Linked DNA regions of Homo sapiens: all the other regions are reported to be linked to region 4. Evidence: microRNA targets listed by miRTarBase, many of them from high-throughput screens and not tested one by one. Region 4 holds a microRNA gene; each other region holds the end of a gene's coding sequence.

Region 1 (7,121 bases), not on the chromosome of region 4:
GGAGCATTTAAGCCATGCCTAGACAGAGGGGATCGCTGATCACAGTGGTGGGGAACTTGAGTTCCTGCAAACCTTTAGCAACAAGAGCTAAGGTGCTCTAGGTCTGTAAAGAAATTTGAAAGGCAGTCTAGGCCATAAGTACTGCAACTCATAGGTGAGTCTTAGTGCTGAACTGGGCCCACAGATAGTGGACTGAAGGGGCATGCAACTTATGGAGAAACCAGCTGGGGTAGCCAAGGAAGTGCTGGCCTCACCCCTCCCCTAATCCCAGGCTGCAGAGCTCGAAGCTCCAAAAGAGCCTCCTTCCTTCTGCTTGATGAGAGAAGAGGGAAGAGTGGGGAGGACGTTGTCTGGCATCTCGGATACCAGCTCAGCCACAGCAGGACAGGGCACCGGTCAGATTTGTGAGGCCCTGTTCTAGGACCTAGCTCCTGGATGACATTTCTAGACACACCCTGGGTGAGAAGGGAACCCATTTCATTTAAGGGAAAGACCCAGTCCTGGAAGCATTCATCACCTGCTAACTGAAGAGCTCTTGGGCCCTGAATAACCAGCAGCGACACCCAGGTACTACATTGAGGGCCTTGGTGAGCCTCTGAGAATTGCTGGCTTCAGGTGAGACTTGGCACATTCCCACCTGTGCTGCAGGGCGAAGCTCCTTCTGCTTGCGAAAAGTGGAGGGAAAAGCAGAGGACCTTGTCTTGTCCTTTAGGTACCAGCATCACCACAGAGGGGCAGAGCACCAGGTGGGCTCTCGGGGTCCCCAGTTCCAGAACTTGACTCTTGGATGGCATCTCTGGACCTGCCCTGGGCCAGAATGGAGCCCCCTGCCTTGAAGGGTGAGTCCCAGGCCAGGCAGCGTTCACCACAAACTGACTGAAGAGCCCTCAGGCCTTAAGGGAACGTGAGTGGTGGTCCGGCGGTACTCCCCAGGGCCCGTGGTGGTGGTGGCTAAGGGGTGAGGCTCCCCTGCTTTTGGAAAGGGGAGGAAAGAGTGGGGGAGAACTGTGTCTTGTGGTTCAGTGCCAGCACAGCTTGAGTACAATAGAACACCAGGTAGGCTTCCAAGGTTTTTGACCCTAGTTCCTGACAGCACCTCTGGACCATCCAGGGTCTGGGGGAACTCGCTACCCTGAGGAGAAAGACACAGGCCTGGCTGGCTTTGCCAACAGCAGATGGCAGAGCCCCAGGGTGTTGAGTGAACATAGGCAGCAGCCAGGGAGTGGTTACAGACCCAGTGCTGTGCTGCCTTCAGGTCTGACCCAGTGCCGTCAGTGATGTGGCCACAGGGGTGCTTGTGTCACTCCACCCCAGCTTTAGGTGGCTCAGGACAGAGAGACTCCATTTGTTTGGAAGAAAGTAAGGGAAGAAAACAAGAGCTTCTGCCGGGTAATCCAGAGAGTTCTCCTGGATCTTATTCAAGACCATCAAGGTGGTGCACAGTGTTACTGGGCTTGGGGTGCTCCCTAAGGCAGATAGAGCATAGATCACAACACCAAGTCCTTTCAGATACCTGGAAGCCTTCCAAAGGAGGGGTACAAACAAGCTCAGACAGTGAAGACTATAATAAATGTCTACCTCTTCAATGGCCAGACACTGAAGAACATCTACTAGGTTAGTGCAAAAGTAACTGTGGTCTTTACTAGGTTAGTACAAAAGTAACTGTGGTTAGTGCAAAAGTAACTGTGGTCTTTACTAGCATCAATACCATCCAGGAAAACAGGACCTCACCAAACGACCTAAATAAGGCACCAGGAAGCAATCATGGAGAAACGAGATATGTCACCTTCCCGACAAAGAATTCAAAATAGCTGAGGAAACTCAATGAATTTAAGATGACACAGAGAAGGAATTCAGCATTCTATCAGATCAATTTAACATAGAGATTGAAATAATTAAAAAGATTCAAGCAGAGACTCTGGAGCTCAAAAATGCAACTGGCATACTGAAGAATGCATCAGAGTCCTTTAATAACAGACCTGATCAAGAAGAAGGAAGAATTAATAAACTTGAAGACATGCTATTTGAAAATACACGGTCAGGGGAGACAAAAGAAAAAAGAATAAAAAAAAATGAAGCATGTCTACAGGGTCTAGAAAATAGCCTCAAATGGGCAAATCTAAGAGTTATTGGCCTTTAAGAGGAGGTACAGACAGGGGCAGAAAGTTTATTCAAAGGGATAATAACAGAGAACTTCCCAAACATGGAGAAATATATCAATATCCAAGTACCAGCAGGCTATAGAACACCAAGCAGATTTAATCCAAAGAAGACTACCTCAAGGCATTTAATAATCAAACTCCCAAAGATCAAGGATAAAGAAAGCATCCTAAAAGCAGCAAGACAAAATAAACAAATATCCTATAATGGAACTCCAATATGTCTGGTAGCAGACTTTTCAGTGGAAACCTTACAGACCAGGAGAGTGGCATGACATACTTAAAGTGCTGAAAGAAAAAAAGTTTTACCCTAGAATAGTATATCTGGTGAAAATATCCTTCAAACATGGAGGAAAAATAAACTTTCCCCGACAAAAGCTGAGGGATTTCATCAACACTAGACCTGTACTATAAGAAATGCTGAAGGGACTATTTCAGTCAGAAAGAAAAGGGTGTCAATAAGCAATAAGTAATCACTTTGAAGGTACAAAACTCACTGGTGATAGTAAGTACATAGAAAAACACAGAATATCATAACACTCCCACTGTGGTGTGTAATACCCTTATCCTAAGCAGAAAGACTAAACAATGAACCAATAAAAAATAATTTTTCAAGACATAGACAGTACAATTAACATATAAATAGAAACAACAAAAAGCTAAAAAGCAGGGGGACAAAGTTAAGGGGGACAAAGGCAGCTCCAGAATTTCTGCTTGGTGTTTTCTAATTTCGTTAAGGGGACTAATAAAAACTAGAGTTTTTTATTGTTGTCTTTTTGTGTGTTTATGCAAACAGTGCTAACTTGTGACCAGCTTAAAATAATGGGTTATAAGATAGTATCTGCAAGCCTCATGGTAGCCTCAAACCAGAAAACATACAATGGATACACAAAAAATAAAAAGTGAGAAACTAAATAATATCACCAGAGAAAATCACCTTCACTAAAGGAAGACAGGAAGGCAAGAAAGAAGGCCACAAAACAACCAGAAAACAAGTAATATGGCAGGAGTAAATCCTTACTTATAAATAATAATGAATGTAAATGGATTGAACTTTCCAATCAAAAGACATAGAGTGGCCGAATGGATGAAAAATCACTTTACCATGTAATGATCCCTCTAGTGTTTTCCCCTCCAAACATCTTTTGATTGTATTGTCAAAGTTGATCAAGTTATTGGTGTTACAAAAAAAATCCACTTGGTCACAGGGCTCCACTGAGGATAAATGAATTAAAGTATAGCATAAACAATACTTTAAAACAGTATCAATCTTGTCATTGCATTGTCCTATCAATATTCCATAGTTACAGATATGAAGAGGCAGAAACTCTTTGATGTGGACAATCAGCCTTCCAATTGAAACAAGGCTTTGTGTATCCTCTGCCTGAGAAGCTGCCCTTTCTCTGTTAGCTACCAGCTCTCTTAATAGATGTTATAAGAAATTAATTTTAAAAGAATATTGTATATTTCTTGTAGTGAAGAAACATTTATTCAAAATTCAGCCTTTTCTTTGGTTTCACTTTTCCTGTTAAATTAAAAACTTATATAACTACTTTGGATTAAAAAGTTATATATAATATTTATATATAATTTGTATAAATATATATTTATATAAAATATTATTTGTATAAATATTTATATAAATATTTGCATAAATATATATTTATATATTATTTGTATATACATTTATATAAATATTTGCATAAATATATTTATATAAAATATTATTTGCATATATTTATATAAAATATTTGCATATATATTTATATAAAATATTATTTGCATACATATTTATACAAAATATTATTTGCATATATTTATATAAAATATTATTTGCATGAACATATTTATATATTTGCATATATATTTATATAAATATTATCTGTATATATATTTATATATTATTTGTATATATATTTATATAAAATATTTATAAATATATAGTATGATTTTCATGTATGCATCTATGCATCCTCCCTGCTTCTTCCATTTAGTGAACTGTATTCACTAACTGTTAGTGACTGTTTCTTCTGGATGGTGAGATTTTTTTTCTTCACATTTTTATTTTTTTAGAGATGGGCCCTGGCTCTGTTGCCCAGGCTGGAGTGCAACGGTGCAATCCTAACTCACTGCAGCCTTGAACTCTTGGGCTCAAGTGGTCCTCCTGCCTCAGCCTCCTGAGTAGTTGGGACTACAGGCACATACCACTACACCTGGCTAATTTTCAAATTTTTTTTTTAGAGATGGGGTCTCACTACATTGCCCAGGCTGGTCACAAACTCCAGGCTTCAAGCGATCCTCCTGCTTCCCCAACCTCCCAAAGTGCTGGGATTACAAGCGTGAGCCACCATTCACTCTTTAAAGACTTTTCTGATGAGCTCGGTTGTGATATAAATAAGTGATTTTGGTATGGAATAATGAACAACATTTGGAAATTTCTATCATCCAGTGAACTGTTATTTTCCAAACAACAATGCAGATGTTAAGAATCACATCTGGGTAAAAGTTCCATTCAGGGTGCAAGACAGGTCAATGTGTCGTAATGCATCAGGACATGAAAGTTCATTGATATGATTTCAGATTCCACATGGCAGCTAACCTTTTCTTTTTCAAAATAACTTTTGTTTTGAAATAGTTGAAGACTCACAAGAAGTTGCAAAAATAGTATAGAGAGTTCTACATATCCTTCACCCACCTCCCCCCAATGATGGTATCTTACACAACCAGATAAATACCAGGAAAATGATGTGGGCACAATTCTATTAATTCGAATACAGCCCTCAGTAGCATTTCACCAGTTTTTATATGCACTCGTTTCTTTTCTTTTTGTCCAACTAACCTTCAGCAAACTAACATTTGTTGAGTTTTGGTGTTGGCATCAAAAAAGATTTGGTGTTGGTATCAAAAAAGAACATCCACAATAATCAGAAAAAGGACATTAAAATATGCCTCCTCTTTCCAACTACTGATCTGAGGCTGGATTTTCTTCATATATATATAATAATTATTATTTTTTGAGATGGAGTCTCACTCTGTCACCCAGGCTGGAGTGCAATGGCACAATCTTGTCTCACTGCAACCTCTGCCTCCCTGGTTCAAGCGATTCTTCCACCTCAGCCTCCCAAGTAGCTGGGATTACAGGCACCTGTCATCATGCCTGGCTAATTTTTGTATTTTTGTAGAGACAGGGTTTCACCATGTTGGCCAGGCTGGTCTTGAACTCCTGACCTCAGGTGATCTGCCCCCGCCTCAGCCTCCCAAAGTGCTGAGATTACAGGTGTGAGCCACTCTGCCCAGCCGATTTTCTTCTTATATTGTAACCAAACACACATATCACAACAGGTCAAACACAAAATCCAACTAGCTTCAATTAGGCCAGGCATTAAAGAGGTTTGTAAAAATGTAAAACATTATCACTTTTCTCATTAAACATTTATTTTTTCATTTTAAAGACAAGAGTCTCACTCTGTTGTCCTGGCTGGAGTACAGTGGTACAATCATGGCTCACTGCAGCCTTGAACTCGGCTGAAACAATACTCTTTCCTCAGCCACCTGAGTAGCTGGGACCACAGGTGTGTGCCATCACGCCCAGCTAATTTTTTGAAGTTTTTGGAGAGATGAGGGTCTCACTATGTTTCCCAGGCTGATCTCAAACACCTGGGCTCAAGTGATACCCCCACTCTGGCCTCCCAAAGTGCTGGGTCTCACTGAATTTTTTTGTTTTGGAAAATATAGTTACTTTTCCTTCAAGTGTTTCATTAATATGCAATAGATTCCTTATAAATGAATACTTTTTTATCTTAGTTTTCATCTCAAATGCCATAAACACTGATACATGTAACCCTCATAAACCAAAGCGCCTTGGGGCCCTCAGTGGTTTGTAGGATTCTAAGAGCTCTGTGCTCCCTAAGGTAATCTGGGTGCCTCCTCCCACAGAGCTCCTGGACTCTAACAAAGTCCAGAACCTTTTCATTCATTGATTTAAACACACATATTTGGGTCACACCATAGCTTATTCAGAGGAAATTAAAAGTTCAGAAGCTTCTAGAGTGATTGTCAATGGGGGAAAATATGATACAAACTGTATATTAAAGTGATCTTTTATTAAACTATTTACTGCTTAGTCTAAATTCAGGTAGAGCAGTCAAAGAAAGTTATCCATCAACTTTGTTGAATTCATATCTTTCATTTTAGAATAACAGCAGACTTTAAGCATGTATTATTTTTCCAGTGTTCAGCTTAGTCTAAGACTGTGTGAGTCTGGTTTGATCCATTGCCGTGAAGAATACACAGACAGCAGCTGTAATGAGCAGGTGCATTCCCTCGTAGAGAAGTTTTGGAGAAAATACACTCCATATAAATAAATGATAACGCAGAGATGTCACCAAAACGATGTACGTGAAAACTGGAATAGAACAAATCAGTGCGTAGCAGAAGCAAGCATGACTCAGTGCTGAACCACTGTTAATAAGAAAGAAAATGTGTATTAGCACATGCCACTTACATATCACACATGTAACAACACTTTTATTTTCAAAAAGACTCCAGTAGCTCTTGCCCTTGGAGTAGAGGGCACCGCGTTCCTTCTTCTGCACACACATCCAGTCACTATGGTGCTGGGACAGGTGCCTCTCCAGATGCGCTGGAGACGGGAAAACCCAACCTGCCCCCTTGGAGGCTGTGTTCTAGTGAAGGAGGCAGGAGAAACCAGATATGTAACATGTCAGGAAGAGACAAATTCATGAAGAAAAATGAAGCAAACAGAAGGATGGGTGAGGGCCACCATGTCCCCCCCCACACACACCTTGAGCTCTCCAGAAATGCTTCTGAAACTTGACTGTATGTAAAAATCACCTACAGTATGTGCTGGAAGTGCCACTCTGGAGCCCCCCCTACAGAAATCTGGATGTGGTTGGTCTGGGGTGGGCAGAGGTCTGAGTCTCCAGAAGGCACGGAGGTGCC
Region 2 (7,121 bases), not on the chromosome of region 4:
GGTTGCAGTGAGCCGAGATCACGCCACTGCACTCCAGCCTGGGAGACAGTGAGACTCCATCTCAAAAAAAAAACAAAACAAAACAAAAGAGGCAACCTAGTGGGGCTCTCGTTGTTGTGAGATCCAGGGTTGCGAAGATCAGTGAGATTCTGAATAGAGAGCTATTGACGCATAATAAGGTCTCAATAAATTTTCTTTTTTTTCCTTTGAGACAGAGTCTCATTCTGCAGTGGGATAATTTAGGAATCAGAGAGACCAAGAGGTTGAGGAGGATACTTATTATTTATTATTTAGTTAGGTGCACTGGCCCGGTCAGATTAACATCCAAAAAGACTGAGCCCTGAACAAAGAGTCCGGTTACCTTTTTTTTTTTTTTTTTTTGAGGCGGAGTCTCGCTCTGTCACCCAGGCTGGAGTGTAGTGGCGCCATCTCGGCTCACTGCAAGCTCCGCCTCCCGGGTTCAGGCCATTCTCCTGCCTCAGCCTCCCAAGTAGCTGGGACTACAGGTGCCTGCCACCACGCCCGGCTAATTTTTTGTATTTTTAGTAGAGACGGGGTTTCAACATGTTAACCAGGACGGTCTCGATCTCCTGACCTCATGATCCGCCTGCCTCAGCCTCCCAAAGTGCTGGGATTACAGGCGTGAGCCACCACGCCCGGCTCCGGTTACCTTTTAAGCATTTTGTGGGGCAGGGGGAGATCTGTGCAGGGGGAAGCATATTACAGAAGCAAGAAACAAAGACAGTTATTCAGTTGAGACATGCATTACATCATTTTTTACTTTTCAAGGAAAAACATGTTTTATGACTTGAGTTTATCTGCCTAGTGACCTTGCAGCTGCACAGCTAGAGAAACAGGGTCTTCACAATGCCTGGGAAAGGGAGAGAGATAAGGCTCACTATCCACAGAAAAACAGGCAGTTAATTTTTAAAGGACTTTAGCTCTTTCTCTTCCTCAGGGTGAATGGGGTTTTCTTACATACAACTGAGTTTTTGCTTACACATTCTTTAATTTCTTTTAATTCCTGTTTTAACTCTCTCACCCAGACTGGAATGCAGTGGCCCGATCTCAGCTCATCGGAACCTCTGCCTCCCAGGTTCAAGTGATTCTCCTGCCTCAGCCTCCTGAGTAGCTGGGATTGCAGGCATGCACCACCATGCCTGGCTAATTTTTGTATTTTTAGTAAAGATGGGGTTTCACCATGTTGACCAGACTGGTCTCGAACTCCTGACCTCAGGTGATTCACCCGCCTCAACCTCCAAAAGTGCTGGGATTACAGGCGTGAGCCACTGCACCTGGCCACGATAAATGTTCTTGCTTGCAGTTTTATCATGGCCTTGGCAGGTTCAAGTTTGCTATTATGCTACCTAAAGATGTCAGGAAACACAGGAAATGTCTTGGCAGCCAGTTTCTGGGGGTTTCCAGCGTTCCCGTGGAGAGGAGGGACTCACGGAGGGGACGCTGGTGCTTTAGAACACATGTGCTGGAGGAACTCCTTTCTCTGTTCACATTTCACCTTCCTACATCCCCAGGGAGACCCTGCCTGGGTCAGGCAGCCCCACCCGACAAGGACCACCTGGATTACGCAGCTTTTCCCACAAAGCCCACCTCACTCAGTCAGCCATGGGCCATTTCCTTCAATGCATGCAGCTCAAGCTGGGGCAACTATACGCAGAAAGAACCTGTGGCAGCTTCGAAAGAAAGTTTCCTGATATAATTCCAACAAAAGGCAGCATACATTACTCAGCTCTGCAGGGAGACTAAAGCCAGCCCGGGTCCCGGAAGGCACAGGAGTGTTTGGACGGTGGCTCTGGCTGCCGGAGACGCCACAAGAGCCTTCCCTCCCTCCCTCCCACACGAACAGCAGACTTGCGACACGGTCTGATGGCCCTCCCCATCTTCCCTCACATGGGCATCTTCCCTCCTAAAATCTCTGCCCATTTAATCCTATCTTGGCATCTGCTTCTCAGAGTACCCATTTCCTCAGAAGGAGGCTTTGGGTCTCAGATACCACCATCCCTCCAGACACCATGGCCTGTGTGTAGACAATTCAATGCCGTGGGCTACACATGGTGGAGGAGCTGCTGGGCGATCCAGAGAGGAGAGTAACTGATTCTTCCTGGAGGCCTAGAAGGTCAAGAGAGGACAGGAAATGGTGGTGTTTTGGGAGAGCCATGAAGGATAAGTGGGAGGGAACTGACATTCCTAAAAAAGAAGTGCAGGGGCCAGGCCCGACAGCTCATGCCTGTAATCCCAGCACTTTGGGAGGCTGAGGCGGGCAGATCATTTGAGGTCAGGAGTTCGAGATCAGCCTGGCCAACATGGCAAAACCCCGCCTCTACTAAAAATACAAATAAAAATGAAAAAACTAACCTGGCGTGGTGGTGGGTGCCTGTAATCCTAGCTACTGCGGAGGCTGAGGCAGGAGAATCACTTGAACCTGGGAGGCAGAGGTTGCAGTGAGCTGAGATAGCACCATTGCACTCCAGCCTGGGCGACAGAGCAAGACTGCATCTCAAAAAAAAAAAAAAAAAAAAGGAGGTGCAGAGACCCCAGCAGTTCAGTTCAGCATAGCCAGAGTGTAGACATGCACAGGGCGGTGATCCAAGGTGAGGCTGGACACAGCCCACAGCCCACAGTCTACAGGGTGAGGAGCAACACAGGAGACCACAGGTCCCTCCCTCACTGTGGCCAGTCCTTAGCCTGAGCAATGACAGAGAGTTCAGTGACAGTCAATGGACAGCAGCCTTTCCCCAACACTAGGATCCCAAAGAGCTTTTGTTATGTGGTTTTATCTTTCAATATTTGCCCTGTTAGATATTAAAACAGAGAACTTTTCTTTTTAAGATGAAGCTGGGGCTGGGCGCGGCGGTTCAAGCCTGTAATCCTAGTACTTTGGGAGGCCGAGTTGGGGGATCCCCTGAGGTCAGGAGTTCGAGACCAGGCTGGCCAACATAGTGAAGCCCCTGTCCCCACTAGAAATACAAAAATCAGCTAGGCGTAGTGTCACCTGCCTATAGTCCCAGCTACTCGGGAGGCTGAGGCAGGAGGATCACTTGAACCTGGGAGGCAGAGGTTGCAGTGAGCCAAGATCACACCACTGCACTCTAACCTGGGTGACACGGTGAGACTCCATCTCAAAAAATAATAATAAAATAAAAGATGAAGCTGGGCTGGGCTCAGTGGCTCACACCTGTAATCCCAACACTTTGGGAAGCCAAGATGGGAGGATCGCTTGAGGCCAGGAGCTCGAGACCAGCATGAGCAACATAGTGAGACCTCATCTCTACCAAAATACAAAAAATAAAAAATAGTCAGGCATGGTGATGGGTGCCTGCCATCCTATCTACTCAGGAGGCTGGAGTGGGAGGATCATGTGAGCCCAGGAGGTCAAGGCTGCAGTGAGCCACAATCACACCATTGCACTCCAGCCTGTGCGACAGAGCAAGACCTTGTCTCAAAAAAAAAAATTGTTTTTTAACTAAAAACAGATGAAGCTGGAAGGCCAGCCTGTAATCCCAGCACTTTGGGAGGCCAAAATGGGTGGATCACCTGAGGTCAGGAGTTCGAGACCAGCCTGGCGGGCACCTGTAATCCCAGCTACTCGGGAGGCTGAGGCAGGAGAATCCCTTGAACCTAGGAGGCGGAGGTTACGGTGATCACACCACTGCACTCCAGCCTGGGCGACAGAGCGAGACTCTGTCTCAAACAAAACAAACAAACCAACCAACAAAAAAAATGGCAGAACAGCTCAAATGCTAAGCCAAAGACTGGGGGCTTTATCCTGTAGGCAAGAGGGAGTTGTTGAAAGTTTTGAGCAACTGAGTCCCGTGACCACATTTGCATTTTTGGAAACATTACCAAGTCAGGATTAAAGGCTGGAGGGCAATTAGGAGGCCTTGCAGTAGGTCACATGTCTTTTCATGTGGATTTAATGAGGAAGGAGTCAGAATATAACAGTTTTATTAATGGTGTTGGATTTTACAACCAAATAATCCCTTAGCTATATTGTTTTATTTTCTAACATGAAAGAGCTTCTACCGTTAATCCTCTCTTCTGTCTCCTGAAGCCAGGGCTCCACAGGCCTTCCTCTGGGAGACACACCCAGGTGTGCCGCCTTCCCCTGCCAGATCCTCAGGCCTTTCTTACCCAACTCACAACTTCCCTTTCACCCTTAGTCCCATACCCACCATCTCCCGAGAAAACCTCCGCAATGGGCTGCCGGGGCCCCAGGCCCTTCCACCCATCCCGCCAGCACACCCTCCCCGTGAAAATGAGTGACCCCAGGCCAGCGTCTTCCCTCAGGAGAGAAGCCTGTCTGGATCCCCAAAGGCCTCTCCCTCCAGGGAAGAGGGACTCTCACTCTGGCCTCAGTGGTTACTCCAGAGCCCAAGAAATGCCCTGTGCGCTAAAACCAAAGAAGGTGTGAACCAGCAAGTAAGTGGGGAGCGGCCAGTTCTGGGACATCTAGTTGGGGGCCTTCTCTTCCCCATGAGCAGCAGGGACCAGTGTGACCTTGGCATCAGGCTCTTTCTCTTGGCTGGCTTCCTCAACGTTCAAGACGCTCGATAAACATATCCCAGAGGCAAAGCAAGTTAAGTCGAGGGTTGTTTATTCACCTAGAATCAGCTCCAGCCATTTTCCAATGTCTTCTTTTTGTTGTTTTTCTGGTTTTTGTTGCAACAGGGTCTCACTATGTTCCCCAGGCTGGTCTCAAACTCCTGGCCTCAAATGAGCCTCCTGCCTCAAACTCCCAAAGTGTTGGGTTTACAGGCATGAGTACCCAGCCCTTAAGTGTCTTTGCTTTGGTTTATGTTTGTTTGTTTCCTTCCACTCCTGGTGCAAACCTTACATGTTTTTGACTGGGGAAACATATTTTGGACCTATGCCTCTACACTGACAGTGAAGAGCCCAATGGGTTGTGCACTAGGTCAGGGCTTCCCGCAGCGTCAGCCCCTGTGGCCAGCAGCGTCACCTGGGAACCTGCTAGAAATGCACATTTTTGGCAGGGCGTGGTGGCTCACACCTGTAATCCCAGCACTTGGAAGGCCAAGGCAGGAGGATCACCTGAGGCCAAGAGTTCAAGATCAGCCTGGGCAATGTAACGAGACACCATTTCTACAAAAACTAAATTAAAAAAAAAAAAATGAGCATTTTCAGCCAGGTGCAGTGGCTCATGTCTGTAATCCCAGCACTATGGGAGGCCAAGGCGGGTGAATCACTTGAGGTCAGGAGTTCGAGACCAGCTTGGCCAACATAGTGAAACCCCTACTAAAAATAAAAATAAATAGCCAGGTGTGGTGGCGGGCGTCTGTAGTCCCAGCTACTTGGGAGGCTGAGGCATGAGAATTGCTTGAACCCTGGAGGCAGAGGTTGCAGTGAGCCGAGATGGCACCACTGCACTCTAGCCTTGAGTGACAGAGCAAGACTCTGTCTCAAAAAAAAAAAAAAAAAAAAAAAAAAGAAATAAAAAAAAGAAATGAGCATTTTTGACCTGTCCAACCTACTAAATCAGAAACTTAGCACCCTATGCTTTAACAAGTCATGGCTAAGGGCTTTAAAAAGGTGATTTTAATGCATGCCTAAGGTGGAGAACTAAGGAGAAGGCTTTTGGGTAAGGTGAATCTGGAGCGGGGGACCCAAGGCCTAAGGAGGAGGGGAGTGTGAGGCAAAAGGAGCCCCTTATCTACAGGTTCTCAAGCTCCTCCCATCAATCCCCCAACCTGGCCCTGTCCCTCCCTCGCTCAACCTTAGTTTCTTCCTGGAATTCTCAGGCCTCCTGGTTCCCAAATTCTGATTTCCCCACTGACCTGACTCCAGATCTCCCTACCCCACTGGGTCTTGTCCCCAGCGTCACTCCAACCCCTCACCAGCAGTCCCCAGGCCATGCCAACCCCCACACTTTTTTTTTTTTTTGAGACAGAGTCTCACTCTTGTCACCCAGGCTAGAGTGCAGTGCCGCAATGTCTGCTCACTGCAACCTCCACCTCCTGGGTTCAAGCAATTATCCTGCCTCAGCCTCCCAACTAGCTGGGATTACAGGCGTATGCCACCGCGCCCAGCTCATTTTTGTATTTTCAGTAGAGAGGAGTTTCACCATGTTGGCCAGGCTGGTCTTGAACTCCTGACCTCAGGTGATCCACCCGCCTCCGTCTCCCAAAGTGCTGGGATTACAGGCATGAGCCACCAAGCCAGTCCTACCCCACGCTTGTCAGTATTCTGGGAGATCCCCCAGTTCCCAGCCCCCTGGGCCCTGGCAACCCGCTCCCCACCCTTCTCCCGTCAGACCCGACCAAGGAGACCTAAGCTTCAACCCAGGCCCCCGCGCCCCTCCACTACCCGTCCGGCGGCTCAGGCCTCGGCGCCTTCGGGACCCACGAGCAGCAGCGGCTGGGCATTCTTGCCCTTGTCGTGCCAGCACACGTCGAAGAAGGGGTACACGGGCCTGGGCAGGCGCTCGTGGAAGGCAAAAAGCGGCACGAGCGCGTCGGCGTCGCTGGCATCGTAGAAGGAGAGGACGCCGTCGCCGAAGCTCAGGTAAAGGCCAATGCGCGTGGGCCGCCTCTCGGGGCTGCGCAGAGCGCGCGGCTCCTTGGCCTCCACGTGTGCCTCCAGGATCTTGCCCTCGCGCAGCCCCAGCAGCCACAGGCCCTGCGAGGGCACCGCGTGCAGGCGCCCGCGGCGGGGGGCCTCGGCCGCGATCACGCCCAGCGCCCAGCGCGGCTTGTCGCCAACATCCACCTCCCAGTAGTGCTCGCCCTCGGAGAGCTGCTGGTGCGCCACCACCGCCACCGCCTTGTCGAACTGGCGCGGGTCCTCCCCGGCCGGCGGCGCCTTCTGCTCCGAGCACTCCACGCGGCGGCCAGAGGAAGACACCACCAGGCTCGGGTGCGCAGAGCTCGGGTCAAAGGTCAGCTCCTCCAGCGCTGCCAGAGAGAACACGGTCAGAAAACCCTAGGTTTCTGCCTCGCTGGGGTCTTCTCCCAACCAATTGCAGGCCAGCTTTCTCTCCCCTAATCCTCTTGGCATCTCTGCTCACTGGGCTTGGGCCACAAGATCACACCTGGCTCAACTTCAGTTTGCCCAGCTGTGAGATGAGGCCATGATTGCTTCCCTCCAGG
Region 3 (7,121 bases), not on the chromosome of region 4:
ATATGTATGCTCTCTTTGTTCATGTGAAATTCTTCCTCTTACAAAGGCATGGTTCTAGTAATTGTGATATATAGGAAGGCAGAACACCTGAGTTCTGATCTCTGCCATAAGTGCTCGGACTTTTATCTTATTCTTCTTAGCACTGGGAGAATAAATTACTGTAGTCCATGAAATCCCCTGAAATCCCTTGGTAGTGCTTTTAGACTTGAAATTTTGAGGGTAAAGTTAAGACTTCCCCTCACAAGTGTTTTGGGATCTCTTGGCAGAATTCTCTTTTTTCCTGTTTCATTCTTGCTCTGTAGAGATTTTGAAGATTGGCATGCTATTTGATTTTATTTGGTTTTATTAAGCCTTTTATTAATAACAATATCTCTGAATTAGGAAAATGCAGGAATTTTATTTTATTTGAGATGGAGTTTCGCGCTTGTCGCCCAGGTTGGAGTGCAATGGCGTGATCTTGGCTCACTGCAATCTCCGCCTCCCACGTTGGTCAGGCTGGTCTTGAACTCCGGGCCTCAGTTGGTGATCCACCCGCCTCAGCCTCCCAAAGTGCTGTCATTACAGGCGTGAGTCACCATGCCCGGCCAAATGCAGGAATTTTATTTCCTCCAGTGCCTTCACCTCCTTCCTACATTCTTTCATATTTGGCTTCCTTTAGGTGCCAGCGTTTTTATGTGTCGATTTTTACCAACGACATTCTCAGCCAGAACTCGTGTCTTTCTGCTCCTGGCATTGGCATGATTTCTTTTTACCATAGCATTTTCCGCTTGGTTTTTCTAGTGTGCTTTGGCGCCAGAGGCTGTTGTATTTTCTTGTCCATTGTCAGTATATGTTTTCTGAATTTCACTTCCTGTTTCTATTCCACTTATAGTCATTTATGATTTATTTGGGCCTTCCCCACAGGTGACAGTTCCTTCTTTCTTCGAACCTGGCTCATGACCCCACTTCACATTCCTGAAACTCCAGCAGAATATCGCTATAACATGGCCCATTCTGCAACTCACAGTGTGATTGAGAAGACTTTCCGAACCCTCTGCTCCCGATTCCGCTGCCTGGATGGATCCAAGGGGGCACTGCAGTACTCACCAGAGAAATCCAGCCATATCATCTTGGCCTGTTGTGTCCTCCACAACATCTCCCTGGAGCATGGGATGGATGTTTGGTCCTCTCCAATGACAGGACCCATGGAACAGCCCCCGGAAGAGGAGTATGAGCACATGGAGTCCCTGGACTTAGAGGCTGACCGTATTCGTCAGGAGCTAATGCTCACTCATTTTAGCTAATGTAGAAGGTGGAGAGGAGGGATACTTCCCAGGAGTTGTGACAGACTTTCCTCCTCATCACCTTTTACACAGTTCCATCATCTAGCATGACTGAGTATACAGATACTTGTCATAAACTGACATTTAATATGTGTGTTTTGGTAAGGTTGGGGCTATGCCAGAATATCTTGATTCATTTGCATATGCATTAATTAAACTGAAACCAAGACAGCGGCTCCCTACTATCCAGTGAACTCTAGGTTGAGTACCACTAATTTGAAAGCTCAGTGGTTGCAAACATTTATGACTGTGCCTACAAAGTCATAGTAAAGGTCAGGAGTTCAAGACAAGACCAGCCTGGCCAACATGGTGAAACCCCGTCTCTACTAAAAATACAAAAATTAGCGGCCGGGTGCGGTGGCTCACGCCTGTAATCCCAGCACTTTGGGAGGCCGAGGCGGGCGGATCACCTGAGTTCAGGAGTTAAGACCAGCCTGGGCAACATGGCAAGACCCTGTCTCTACTAAAAATACAAAAAAATTAGCTGGGCGTGGTGACAGGTGCCTGTAATCCCAGCTACTCGGTAGGCTGAGGCAGGAGAATCACTTGAACCAGGGAGGCGGAGGTTGTGGTGAGCCGAGATCGTGCCATTGCACTCCAGCCTAGGCAAGAAGAGCGAAACTCCGTCTCAAAAAAAAAAAAAAAAAAAAATTAGCCGGGCGTGGTGGTACATGCCTGAAATCCCAGCTACTCGGGATGCTGAGGCAGGAGAATCGCTTGAACCTGGGAGTCGGAGGTTGCACTGAGCCAAGATCATGCCACTGCACTCCAGCCTGAGTGACAGAGCAAGGCTTTCTCCAAAAAAACAAACAAACAAACAAAAAAAAAACTCATAGTAAAGGGGAAAACAGCATATAGTCAAAACACTTTTTTGGTTTCAATTATCTGCAGATTTCAGATGAAAACAGTATTTACATAGGCCGGGTGTGGTGGCTTACGCCTATAATCCCATAATCCCAGCACGTTGGGAGGCCGAGGTGGGCAGATCACCTGAGGTCGGGAGTTCGACACCAGCCTGACCAAGCCTGAGCAACATGGTGAAACCCCGTCTCTACTAAAAAATACAAAAATTATCCGGGCGTGGTGGCACGCGCCTGTAATCCCAGCTACTCAGGAGGCTGAGGCAGGAGAATCACTTGAACACAGGAAGCAGAGGTTGCAGCGAGCCGAGATTGTGCCATCGCACTCCAGCCTGGGCAACCGAGCGAGACTCTGTCTCAAAAAAAAAAAAGAAAGAAAACAATATTTACTTGTTCTGGATTATTTGGGTGGTATTTTAGTTTTTCTACTTTGCTGCCTATATAGGCATAATCTGAGGCAAATGTGAAGAGAGAATTTCAGTTGGGGAATGATCTTCTGACATTAGTAAATGGCTACTAATCTCAGTTTGCAGCTTTGTGCTTTTAAGAGGATGTTAAAGACAGTCAGAAACCTCCATCTTTAGCCTGTCTGCAATAATTGGACTGTGACTTGGACCTAGATCCTAGGGAGAACATCTGGACTCCAGTTTCCTATTTCCAACCCTGACTCGGAGTTAGAGGCTAAATGGGTTTGAGAACCCAATCAGCTTAAAAAAGGCAATTCGAATATAGATAAAATAGCAAGCTTATGCTTTACAGGCGTTCTAAGGACTGAGAGAGATTGATGAGCAATGCAGATTCACCCAGGTTCAGACACCTCACATTCAACTAGATCACATTTCTTATAATTGTGATGTTAGAAAGTCTGGTCATTCTGTTTTGAAATTCGTTGTACAAAAGGAAGATTCAGGGAATAAAGAAGGCATGTGAAAGTATTACAAAGGAGAGGTAATAGGAATATAATTTCTTGGCTTGAAATGAATTCTGGTGCTAGACCTTGGATATGCAGAGTGATGGACAGAATTTCCTAAGAAATAAATAATCCCCTAGCAAGTCTTGTTCTAAAATTACACTGATATAAAAATAACCTGATTAGAATAATGAAAGTGTGAATTAGGTTCACACATTGGTGCCTTTGCTGGGACAAAAAAGAGACTTTCCTGAGGGTTGTCTTGTTCCAGTTTCTCAGCCACTCACCATGTGATACCTCTGACTTGTCCTCTTGGATCATTTCCTACCTCTTGCCTTTGGCAGTGTTAATCTGGTGATTTTCAAAGTAAAGAAATGAACAGCTGATGACAGAAGAAATTTGGAAATAAATTGAGGGTGACTCATCCTCAAGATTAAAAACAATTATGGATTATTATCTGCTGTTTTATTTCTACTCCAAATGCTATTCACCATCATTATCCTGCTCTATAAAGAGTGGGTCCATTTGGCAGAAGATTGTGCTTAATATGCACAGGGATGTCATTGAGGTGGGAATGGACAACGAAGAGTTGGCTAGAAACATTAACTCTATTCATTGTGCAACAGAGGTGCCCGGTTAACATTTTTTTCTTTGTAAAGTTCAACTTGTTTCCCTCATAAGGCAATGTTTTAATTCTTAAGGTCTTTCCTTTTTAAGTCTTCTAAGATGGGTATTTTCCCCATAAAGTTTTGGTTCTGTTTGGTAGATCGCATCAGGAAAGGGTTACTGCCCAACATGTATCATAAGTGGCAAGGTGAAGTGTGATCATGGAAAATGCCTTGCATTTTAGCCTTGTATAACTATATTTAAGGAAAATTGGAGTTTTTCACAACTTAACTCACTAGATGGTGACATAAAAGACTGAGTGGGATGGACAGTCTTGGAGAGATTTCAAAAGCAATTTCAAGTCTGTTTACTTGCACACCAAAGATAATCTAAGTGCTGAGCTGGCTGAACATTGGCTGACAGTGTTTTTCCCTGGGAGCATTTTATTTTCTAATAATCCCACAGGGAAACTCTTCAGATCTACACCTTTAACCTCCTTTCAACCTGTGGTTTTGCAGGCCAGGATTTTTTTTTTTCTTTTGTCATTGGTTAGTTATTTCCCCAAAATGATGGAGGGGAAGGATCAGGGTCTGTACTTCCAAATTGCCAAGGGTGTCCTCACAGGGGCTTTTTATAAGCGTCTGAGAAAGCTGCTCCCTTTGTGGTCCTTAGTGTGGATTTATAGCTTTTTTCTGGCATGGTTTTGGGAAAGAGTCAAGGATTTTGTCTGTCTTACGTAAGCCTCATTTTCCCATAGATAACTCCATCTGGCCAGCATAGTAGTTTTCCAGATTTACCCTTAGATGTTTCAAGGCAGTAAGGTCTCAGGATATATCAAGGGAAAACAATATTGGGTGATCACCAATTTACCAATTCCAGATTATACAAAAGAGGGACCATAAACATATTCTTGGTTTAAGTTAACTGAATAGGGATGAAGCTGTTTTCCTGATCCTAGGACTGTGAAGGATCTAGACCAAGTTAATCTAACTTAGGGATAAAAAACAAGACACAATTTTAGTGGAGTCATGTAGTGAAGACATAGAAGAAGTGGGTAACGGTGAAAGAGGCTAGACAGATCATAGATATAATAAGATTTTATCTGTATCTGAAACAAACGGAAAATAGCCCAAAGACTGAGCTTCGTAGTTACTTTCCCTGGCAGTGGAGGGGAAGTTAGAAGGAGGACAAGAAAATAAGAAATGAAAGGGTTTTTGTGCATACACATGTCCTCAGGGCCCATTTTGCTCTCTAGATCCTGCCAAGATTTTCCAAAATTGTTGTGGGTATGAGAAATCACAGATTCAGGATTAAGACTTTGTTGATTATGTGGAAAGGAAGGAAAAATACTAGCTGAAGGCTGGGGACATGCTAGTTTCCCAACACATAAAATTAATAGACTTTTTTTTTAATCACACAGAAATCCTTGTTCTAAAAAAAACCTTTTTTTTTTTTTTTTTGAGACAGGGTCTTGCTCTGTTGCCAAGGCTAGAGCAGTACAGTGGAGTGATCTCGGCTTACTGCAGCCTCCACCTTCCAGGCTCAAGTGATCCTCTGACGTCAGTCTTCCGAGTAGCTGGGACTACAGGCACACACCACCATACCCAGTTAATTCTTTTTTTTTTTTTTTGTAGCAATGGGGTTTTGCTAAGTTGCCCAACCTGGTCTCGAAATCCTGGATTCAATTGATCTGCCTGCCTTGGCCTCCTAAAAGTGCTGGGATTGCATGCCCCTGTGCCCGGCCCTGAATTTTTTTTTTTTTTTTTTTTTTTTTTTTTGAGATGGAGTCTCACTCTGTCACCCAGGCTGGAGTGCAGTGGCACGATCTCGGCTCACTGCAACCTCCGCCTCCCTGGTTCAAGCTATTCTCCTGCCTCAGCTTCCCGGGTAGCTAGGATTACAGGCACGTGCCACTGTGCCCAGCTTATTTTTGTATTTTTAGTAGAGACAGGGTTTCACCATGTTGGCCAGGATGGTCTCGATCTCCTGACCTTGTGATCCGTCCGCCTCGGCCTCTTAAAGTGCTGGGATTACAGGCGTGAGCCACTGCACCCGGCCCTGAATTTTTTTAAATTAACTTTTGTAGAGACAGGGTCTCACTCTGTCACCCAGGCTGGAGTGCAGTGGTGTGATTGTAGCTTATTACAGCCTTGAACTCTTGGGCTCAAGTGATCCTCCCACCTCAGCCTCCCAAGTAGCTAGGACTAGAAGTGTACACTACCATGCCTGGCTAATTTTTTTTTGGTACAGACAGGGTCTGACTATGTTGCTCAGGCTGGTCTTGAATTCCTGGCCTCAAGCAATCCTCCTGCCTTGGCCTCTCGAAGCGCTCTGAGATTATAGGGATTACAGGCATAAAGTACCGTGCCCAGCCTAAACTTTTTTTTTAACATGACTACAGGCTGGGCACAGTGGCTCACGCCTGTAATCCCAGCACTTTGGGAGGCCGAGGTAGGCAGATCACAAGGTCAAGAGATCGAGACCATCCTGGCCAACATGGTGAAACCCCGTCTCTACTAAAAGTACAAAAATTAGCTGGGCATGGTGGCGGGCGCCTGTCATCCCAGTTACTAGGGAGGCTGAGGCAGGAGAATCACTTAAACCTGGGAGGCAGAGATTGCAGTGAGCTGAGATCCTGTCATTGCAACTCCAGCAACAAGAGCAAAACTCCAAAAAAAAAAAAAGAGAAAAAAAAATGACTACAACTGAAGGCCTCTTGTGATTGTAAAGTAGAAGAAATTAGATCTCTGGATACTGAACAGGAGAAAGGAGATTAGACTTTGAAATCATAAATTAGCAAATTTCAAAAAGGGGCCTCCCTGTTTGCCCAGCAAAACATTAAGGATCTATTATTCTGTTGACATGTTAACTTTCTCTAATCTTTATGCTGTCTTTTACAGATGGGCTGATTTCTTTGTCATTCTAGAGCCTTAAAATATTCATACATTTTGATCTATTGATAAATTTCATCACTGGAGATTTATCTTATAGAAATAATTCCAAAGAAGGGAGAGCCTTCTATCATTCTACGGCTAGCAGTTCCCTGCTGTTCTGGGCTCTCTCTCCTTCCCTGGGCTGCTCCTACGTCACTATACTACTACCTTTACCATTCCATCATCAAGTGTATACATTACCCCACAGCACAAAAAGAACCGGCTAGAAAAGAACAGAACAGAATTGCAATGGCAGAATTGACAACTGGCTTACCATTTCAGCTGTTCAAGGCCTGACTGGTCTTCCTGCACTTCCTAGTAAGATGACTCACGGTACCATTACAGAATTATCTCACGCTAGGGTCAAACCTGATTTCTACCACCGAGTGTGTGGTAGAGGCATGTTTCTCAGAACCCAGAGCCAAGATAAGGAACAGTCTCCAATTCCCTGTTCTCTCCCCTCCCTCCTTCACCCTTCATTCCAGGCAAG
Region 4 (7,121 bases):
ATAGCTACCTGCAGGCTGACTTGCTGGAGAGCTCTGACTGAGGCTGGATGGGGAGGGGCTGCCACCCAGGACCATTCTCTCCCCAAGTTTGGCATCCAGGGGACAACTGGGTCTCTTTGTCAGCTACTTCTGGGCCTTGGGGCCAGATAGACAAACGAGTCTCCTACAAAGTCCAAGGGGCTCCTCTCTGTAACACGTTTTGAGTTTTTTGAAATTGCCCAAGAATTCCCTCACTAATAGATTACTACTTAGGAATCTTCATTTTTGGTTCTGTGTGCCATAACATACCCCGTTCTCTTTTCCCATTATTATCCTCCCCAAAACAACCACTGCCAGCCCCCTTATAAATTGTGGGAAGTGGGTGAATGTTCCCCTTTCCAAAGCTCTTGGAGCTTGTCTCTGAAATGCTTTCCTACTCAATGTCAGGAAATCAGATGTCGGTATTTACCTCAGCCTGGAATCTCCTTCCCAAGCCACCCTCCTGGGTGTGCCCTGGGCCAACACAATGATTCAGGTTACAAGGTCTGCAATAAGCTTCTGGTAACAGGACATTGTTCTGCGGTAACTGGCTATCTGGGACCTGTTAAAGGATACCCATGCTTGTTTCTCTGGAAGATTCCAGAGCTCTTCACTTCCATAATGGGTCCCCACCCAAGACTAGAAAAGCCAAGTGAAATCTCCTATCTGAATCTCTTGCTTTTGCTCTTGATGAAGAGCCATCCTTTTTTCCTCCTCCTCTCCCTTCCGTATCACCACTGTTTAGGAATATCTATAAGGAGTTCAAATCCAGTTATGCAAACCTTTGGGTTGAGGATGTCCCAGCTTTGCCCTGGCCACACCCATTCTAGGGAGGCCAAGCCATGCCTCCAGCTTCACATCTCACTGTCCAGAGCCTCCACATCCATGTCACATTTCTGCTCTGAGAACAATGCAGAAATACCACCCCTCCCCAGAGGGATTTAGGTAGGTGGCTTGCACCATCTGTCATCATCAACATGATCCAAAACCTGTTTTAAGTCATTAAAAATTTCTCTGAGTCATGGTCGTCAAAGATTCTCTTTGAGTACACAAATGTCCTAAATGTGGAGCCCTGTGACACACCATCATGTGACATTTTCTGTGGCCTCAGATACTGACCACTGATGCAACTTCCCAGTAGGATGTCTCAGTTAAGGCTCAAATCTCTATCCTCAGCCCAGGCCTCTCAGTTGTGGAAAACACCTTGGATTTGGGTGAATTAGTCATTTCCACAAAGGCAGTGGCTTCATTCCCGTAGCCACTATGGATCTCGTGCCTTGGGTGACAAGTCCTCATTCCTTGTCCCCAGGCATTCTGGCAACGTGGACCCCAGTGCCATTCATCTCCACTCTGGATGAAAGCTGTGGTTTCTTAGAAGTTCACATGTGGAAATGGGGCCTCAGTATCAGCCTCCACATCCTTCCTTCTTCAGGAAAATTCATCTTATGGGCAAATTCCAAATAACTTCAGAATCCACCAGAAGAATTATGCTTGGCCATGGTTACTCCCAGTTGAATAAAATCAGATCCTAATTTGTCTTCAACCTCCTGGCTGCAAATTTATCTCAATCATGTTTTCAGCCATTCCTCCTGGACTTGAACACAATTCCCAAAGATTCCGTAGAGTCCAAACATCAAAGGAAATGTTCTCTGTTCTTCAGCTCCAACTGTTCCCACAGAAGTACTCTCCATCCCTTTTAGATAAGCTGACTGAGCTGTTTGGACACAGGGACATGTCATCACTGTCCCCAAAGCCGTGACACTCAGTGTCCAGGGTCCTCACATTTTTCATGACCTCTATGTGCATGGGGCTGTCTTATCCCAGAGACTTGGGGTACAACCTCCACAACACCATCAACAACAAGAACATCCTCTGCATCCCCATGCCCTAGCTGTCCTTATCTCTCATCATGGAAAACTTCACACCATGACTTCTCCCTCTACTGGCAGTGTCCAGCATGCTTCCTCTCAGAAAACCCAGGCTTTCACAGATAATGGTTTGCCTTGTCTCCTAGTGGCCTAGACACTACTGCTTTTGGTCCTATCACCCAAAAACGTGAGCAAAATCTACAAAGGCAAGAGAGCACACACTCTTGGCCACAAAAGAGGGAGAAAAACATAACAGTGTCTCAGGATCTTGTTTTTCCCATGTGGTTATTAGCATTGCATCTGTATTTAGTCCATACGCTCTTGGTAAAAGAGCCTATGTTTGCTCTACTTTAACTCTGTTAACAGAAGTACAAATGTTGAAGAATGTGGCATCCATGAGTGCAGGAGGCCAGTGGGGGTGTGAGACGGTTGGGACTGGGTTGGTTATCTCTTGTCTATTTTTCACGTGAGAGTAATTTACATGATATTGGTTTGTGTTTTGACTTCTCAGGAGCTATCTTCTATCTGGAGTCTCATATTAGGTGAGATTGCTGCATGAAGGCAATACTTCTTTACAGAGTTTGCTGGCCACTGGTGAGCTAGACTACTTCTCTTCCTTTAGCTAGGATTGCATTTCTATTATTTTCAGAAATCAACAAAGTTTAAGACAGTAAGATCTCAGCATATAATCTCAATTCTTGTCATCAAATTATCTTACATCACTTATAAGATTCACCTCAATATTGTATCTAAATTTTCTCCTCTGAAAGCAGATGCCTTTTCTGCACAACAAAATGTTGACCTAGGCCTTACCTTGATAAAAGCTACCTCAAGCACCCTGAGGGCATTAGGAGGTGCAATAGGGACAATAAAGCTTGCTAATGTGATTGTGGGTGGCCTGGCAACTGGAGTGATGATGGGGAAAGCCTGGAAATCATTCCCTTCTGAGACCAGACAGCCTAAGCCGAAACCAGAGAAATGCATCACATACAAAGGAGGCAGCAGAGCTGTCTTCATAAATCGCAGCCTGTAGGCCTTTTAATGTGTCAGCGTAACCCGCCGTTAACGATATTTAATTGCTATCTACAGTAAGTTCCGTAGATCATTACCATACCAGTCATTTTTCAAAGATCCTCGTTAGCACAGGACTAGTGAACACAATAAACGATGTGACAGGAGATGGCTAGAGAAATGCTGCAGAGAATGAGCTCATGTAAGTCAGCCAGCTCATAGAGGAAACCCCCTATCTTTCTACTGGCACCATAATAAAATCCACCATGCACACTGGGCTATTTCCACTGCAGTGCATAAGACAAGAGAAATGGGTCACTATTGTGCTCCTGCTGGTTTCCTCTCCACCAATGCAGCTTGTTCCCTCACATAGTAAGGTGATGTCCACAATGCCTGGCTAGAACAGAAAAGATCTGACAACACCGATGTCCACACCTGAAGTGCCTGAAAATAGCACCTTCCTATGAACATTTAAGTTGGCAATCCATCCATTTGGGAGGTACATGTGTACTGTGAACCTACCCAGAACCAGGCACTTTGCTAAGGCATTGAGATTCAAGGTCAAGGGAGGCACAGTCCCCATGGACCTTGCAGCCGGGGACACAGCTAATGGACAGGAGACATTCATAGTCCAACTCACTTGCTTTATTTCAGTGACTTTATTTTCCATTTTGTTATTACCTTCTTTTTCAAGTCTCCTGTTGGAATTTGGATTATGTTACTTTATTTTTTCCTTTAAAATGCTTTTTGAATGATCAAAGGCCCATTTTAATCCCTCTATTGTCTGCAGCTCCTTAGAGGTGAATTCTCCTTTTACAGAGTCTGTTTGCCCTCAAGGTGATGAGTCTCCACAGGTGCTGGGGGCACACCTTCCTTAGGAATCATTCTCCCATGGAGTCTCAGAAATGCCTTGAGCTCTGCAGGCATCTTCACTGGAGCAATGATTTTTATGCTGGGCTTGAGACTTTTGGGTTGCAAGCTGTTCCACATCAGCTTTTACCTTAAATTCTTGCTCAGATTTTCCAAACAGCAAAGACAGTGTGAATGGAGGCCCCTTACACCAGCCACAGTTGGCGTTCTGACTCCTCTGTGTGACTCCTATCCCACACCAGGCCCAGTCCCAGCATTAGCTTTTGTGATGCATTCCTTGGTACAGAAGGCTAAGCATCGCTAATTTCTATTCAGAGACACAGGGACTCTACCCTTGTTCCTGGCTTTATAAAGCTGCTCAGTTCTAATGTGCACTGCACACAACAGCTGCCAGGGCCACAAACACCCCCAAGCAGACGTTAGGCTCTCAACCCCTAAGATACAGTTTTCCTCTCAATAGCTCATAAGACTCTGCCCTCTGACGTGAGAAAATAGAATTCTGTTGTGCTTTTTAAGTATGCCTATGGCATCTTTTAAAATATACCATATATGATCCAGTATTTCTTTGTGTTTGGAGTGTGAATCTGCAGGTGAAAGAGTGTGTTCTACACGTGCCCGATCCATCCTCATTACACAAATTCACCCTCTACTTTAAAACAGGGAATTTGGGCCTTTGACAGGAAAGAAGCCGGACAGTCATGGGGCCAAACTGGAATCAAATGTAAATATTTAATTTCCTCCTGTTAAAAGCAGAGTGGACCCACAGTCCCTCCCAAAGTAAAATGCACAATAATGTGTCAAGAGCCCTGGACTTATTGCTTCTCGGACGTTAGCAAAGATCAAGCGCAGACCACTGGCTTTGGGGTCTGATACCCCAGGAGAGTCCCGGTTTCGTGCTCATGTGTTATGTGACCCTTGACCCCTCGTTCAATTCTCACGTGCTTCACTCTCCTAAGCCATGCAAAAGGGACATAAGGATATCTCCTGAAAGCAGAGTCGGCTGGAAGGCTGGAAGGCTTATGTGAAGCAGTTGCATATCACTTAGCACTTAGAATGGGCAAATAAAAAATGGTTTAGCTTCTCCTTTGTGGGAACAGAGACTGGGATGGTTTGTATCCTGGCTCTCCTGAAACTGCGCTGCCGAGCTGGGCCCAATCTCTAGTTCAGCTCGCTTCAGAAAGCCAAAGGCAGAAGGCTGCAGGACCAGAGATTGAGCCTGGCCACACAGCCCCTTCTTCCTGATGCCACATGGCTGGTGATCCTGGTCACAGCCTGCCTGAGCTGGTGGAACACAGCTTTGTCGGACTGTTGAAGATAACCCTACAGAAAAATCACCTGGTGAAGGGCAAATGCGCATGTTTTGTCATAAGACCAACTGGGTTTCCTAAATCAGCCAAGCCGTTTATCCTGTGGTCTTGGCAACAGGCTGACCTTCCTTTTACAGAGGAGATGGTGATGCCTGGTCCCAGAGGAGCGCTGTGAGCACCCAGGCATGGATTACAGTGCTTAGCACAAAGTAACATTAAATGTGAATCTCTCTTCTAAAACTATGTTACAAAAAGCAGTAATTCATTCCAAGCAAGACTGTCAGTTTAGGTGAATCAAGTAATCATAATTTCTCTAAAACCTTTTTTCTACTGTAAAAGCTTTAATTTTTGTCTTTATTTTTATTGATACATCTTAGATGTGCATATTTTGGGAGTACATATGATAATTCAACACATTCATATAATCAAATCAGCATAATTGGGATATTTGTCACCTTAAATATTGATCTTTTCTTGATGCTATGAGCATTAGGTTAATGGGTACAAATGTACAGTTAGATAAAAAGAATAAGACCTGGTCTTCAATACATCATGGTGGCTATAGTTAACATTAACCATTGTACATTTCAAAATGCTAGAAGAGAATAATTCCAACACGTTTTTTGTTTGCTTACTTTTTTCTGAATTCTAATAGACTGATACATCAGTCCCTGCTGTAGCGAAAATAATGACTTCCTCAAAATGCACTTCAAGAATGTGACCTCAATGGATGTAACAGAAAGAACCTGCTCTTGGTGTTTGGGAAAGAAAAGGTGTTAGGCCCGCCACAATTCCTTCTCCTCCCAGGTGATTCAGAGTCCTGGAGGACAGAATACCTTGGGAACTTGAGTGAACTCCTTTCACCAGCCCAGCCTTGACTCAGATTCCAGCTCATATAGCTCACAAGCTCCACTGCCCAGGCCAAACCCCTCAAATGCTTAGGTTTTGTTTGTTTATTTGAAAGAGTTTTGCTCTTGTTGCCCAGGCTGGAGTGCAATGGCGCAATCTTGGCTCACTGCAACCTCCGCCTCCTGGGTTCAAGCGATTCTCCTGCATTAGCCTCCCGGGTAGCTGAGATTACAAGTACCCACCACCACGCCCGGCTAATTTTTTGTGTGTTTTTAGTAGAGACGGGGTCTCACCATGGTGGCCAGGCTGGTCTCAAACTCCTGACCTCAGGTGATCCGCCTGCCTCGGCCTCCCAAAGTGTTGGGATTACAGGCGTGAGCCACCACGCTCGGTCTAATGGTCAGGTTTTTATTCCTGTATATGTCAAGTAAGGACAATAAGAATTACTTCAAAGTGTTGTTAGGAGCTAATGCATGTAAAGCATTTATAAGAATTTTTGGCACCCAGCAGATGCTCAGAAACTTTTAGCTCATAATATTAGCATTGCTATAAAAATAACATTAATAAAAACCAACAACATTACTACCGTGAGAAAGTCATAATAATATACATCAAAGGATATTAATAATATACAATGACTTTCCCATATGCCATTTGTATGGCCAGAAAGCCAGACACAACTCCTGACTTCCTCCTGCGATTCAGACGACATTGCTTGGATGCAAACTTACCTGAAAGAACCACTTAATAGGTTTGTCACTCTAAGCAAATACTAGTGTTCAAGAAATGTTCTCAGGTGATCTAAAACACAGTCCAGAATACCTGCTTATGGCTTTTCAAATGTTTGCAATACAAGGCCTGCCTCTGTGCTCAGCTCCCAGAGAGAATTTTTCTAATAGATGCAGTTTTTCCTATTAGCAATGGAACATACACATTTGAAACCCAGCTGGCAGCCTCTATGATTGTAGGCTAAATCTCGTAAACAAAACTTAAATGTAAAGAAGTGTTTGTACTAGCTGCAAATGGGCTACTGGTTTGATGCCACAGGGGAAGTTGTTAGCAGGTGACATCAGAGGATGGATTAGTTAGGGTAACATTGTGAACCGAGAGACAGGAGAGATCTTGTCACTCACTGAAGGCGAGACTCTTCTAGAGAGTTGTTTTCTCCCCAAGATCTGCGCCTTTCCCCAGACTGAGT

Evidence for each region. The annotated mature microRNA hsa-miR-7158-3p reads CUGAACUAGAGAUUGGGCCCA and lies in region 4 at 4,914-4,934, opposite strand. An mRNA with a match to its seed (bases 2 to 7 or 8) in the 3' UTR can be bound and repressed. Matches are read on the target gene's strand: a 7mer-m8 pairs with bases 2 to 8, a 7mer-A1 pairs with bases 2 to 7 and ends in A, and an 8mer does both.
Region 1: miRTarBase lists PIGG as a target of hsa-miR-7158-3p. Seed matches in the 3' UTR shown: 7mer-A1 at 5,675-5,681.
Region 2: miRTarBase lists TRIM72 as a target of hsa-miR-7158-3p. Seed matches in the 3' UTR shown: 7mer-A1 at 6,117-6,123.
Region 3: miRTarBase lists HARBI1 as a target of hsa-miR-7158-3p. Seed matches in the 3' UTR shown: 7mer-A1 at 1,601-1,607.

What each region holds. Positions count from the first base shown.
Region 1 is chr4:538,652-545,772 of GRCh38, reverse strand. It overlaps PIGG (phosphatidylinositol glycan anchor biosynthesis class G (EMM blood group)), which reads right to left. Exons shown (of 13, transcript NM_001127178.3): 13 at 5,573-6,620. The coding sequence ends at 6,404. Among named protein-coding and RNA genes, the nearest start is that of TMEM271, 34 kb to the left of the region's middle.
Region 2 is chr16:31,223,986-31,231,106 of GRCh38, reverse strand. It overlaps TRIM72 (tripartite motif containing 72), which reads right to left. Exons shown (of 7, transcript NM_001008274.4): 7 at 1-6,926. The coding sequence ends at 6,352. Among named protein-coding and RNA genes, the nearest start is that of PYDC1, 10 kb to the right of the region's middle.
Region 3 is chr11:46,597,692-46,604,812 of GRCh38, reverse strand. It overlaps HARBI1 (harbinger transposase derived 1), which reads left to right. Exons shown (of 3, transcript NM_173811.4): 3 at 904-1,952. The coding sequence ends at 1,283. Among named protein-coding and RNA genes, the nearest start is that of AMBRA1, 7.2 kb to the right of the region's middle.
Region 4 is chr2:5,972,525-5,979,645 of GRCh38, reverse strand. MIR7158 (microRNA 7158) reads right to left here and starts at 4,984; the gene lies at 4,914-4,984. It overlaps SILC1 (sciatic injury induced lincRNA upregulator of SOX11), which reads right to left. Exons shown (of 2, transcript NR_026832.1): 2 at 1-7,121. RefSeq lists enhancers at 3,383-4,036, 4,916-5,417.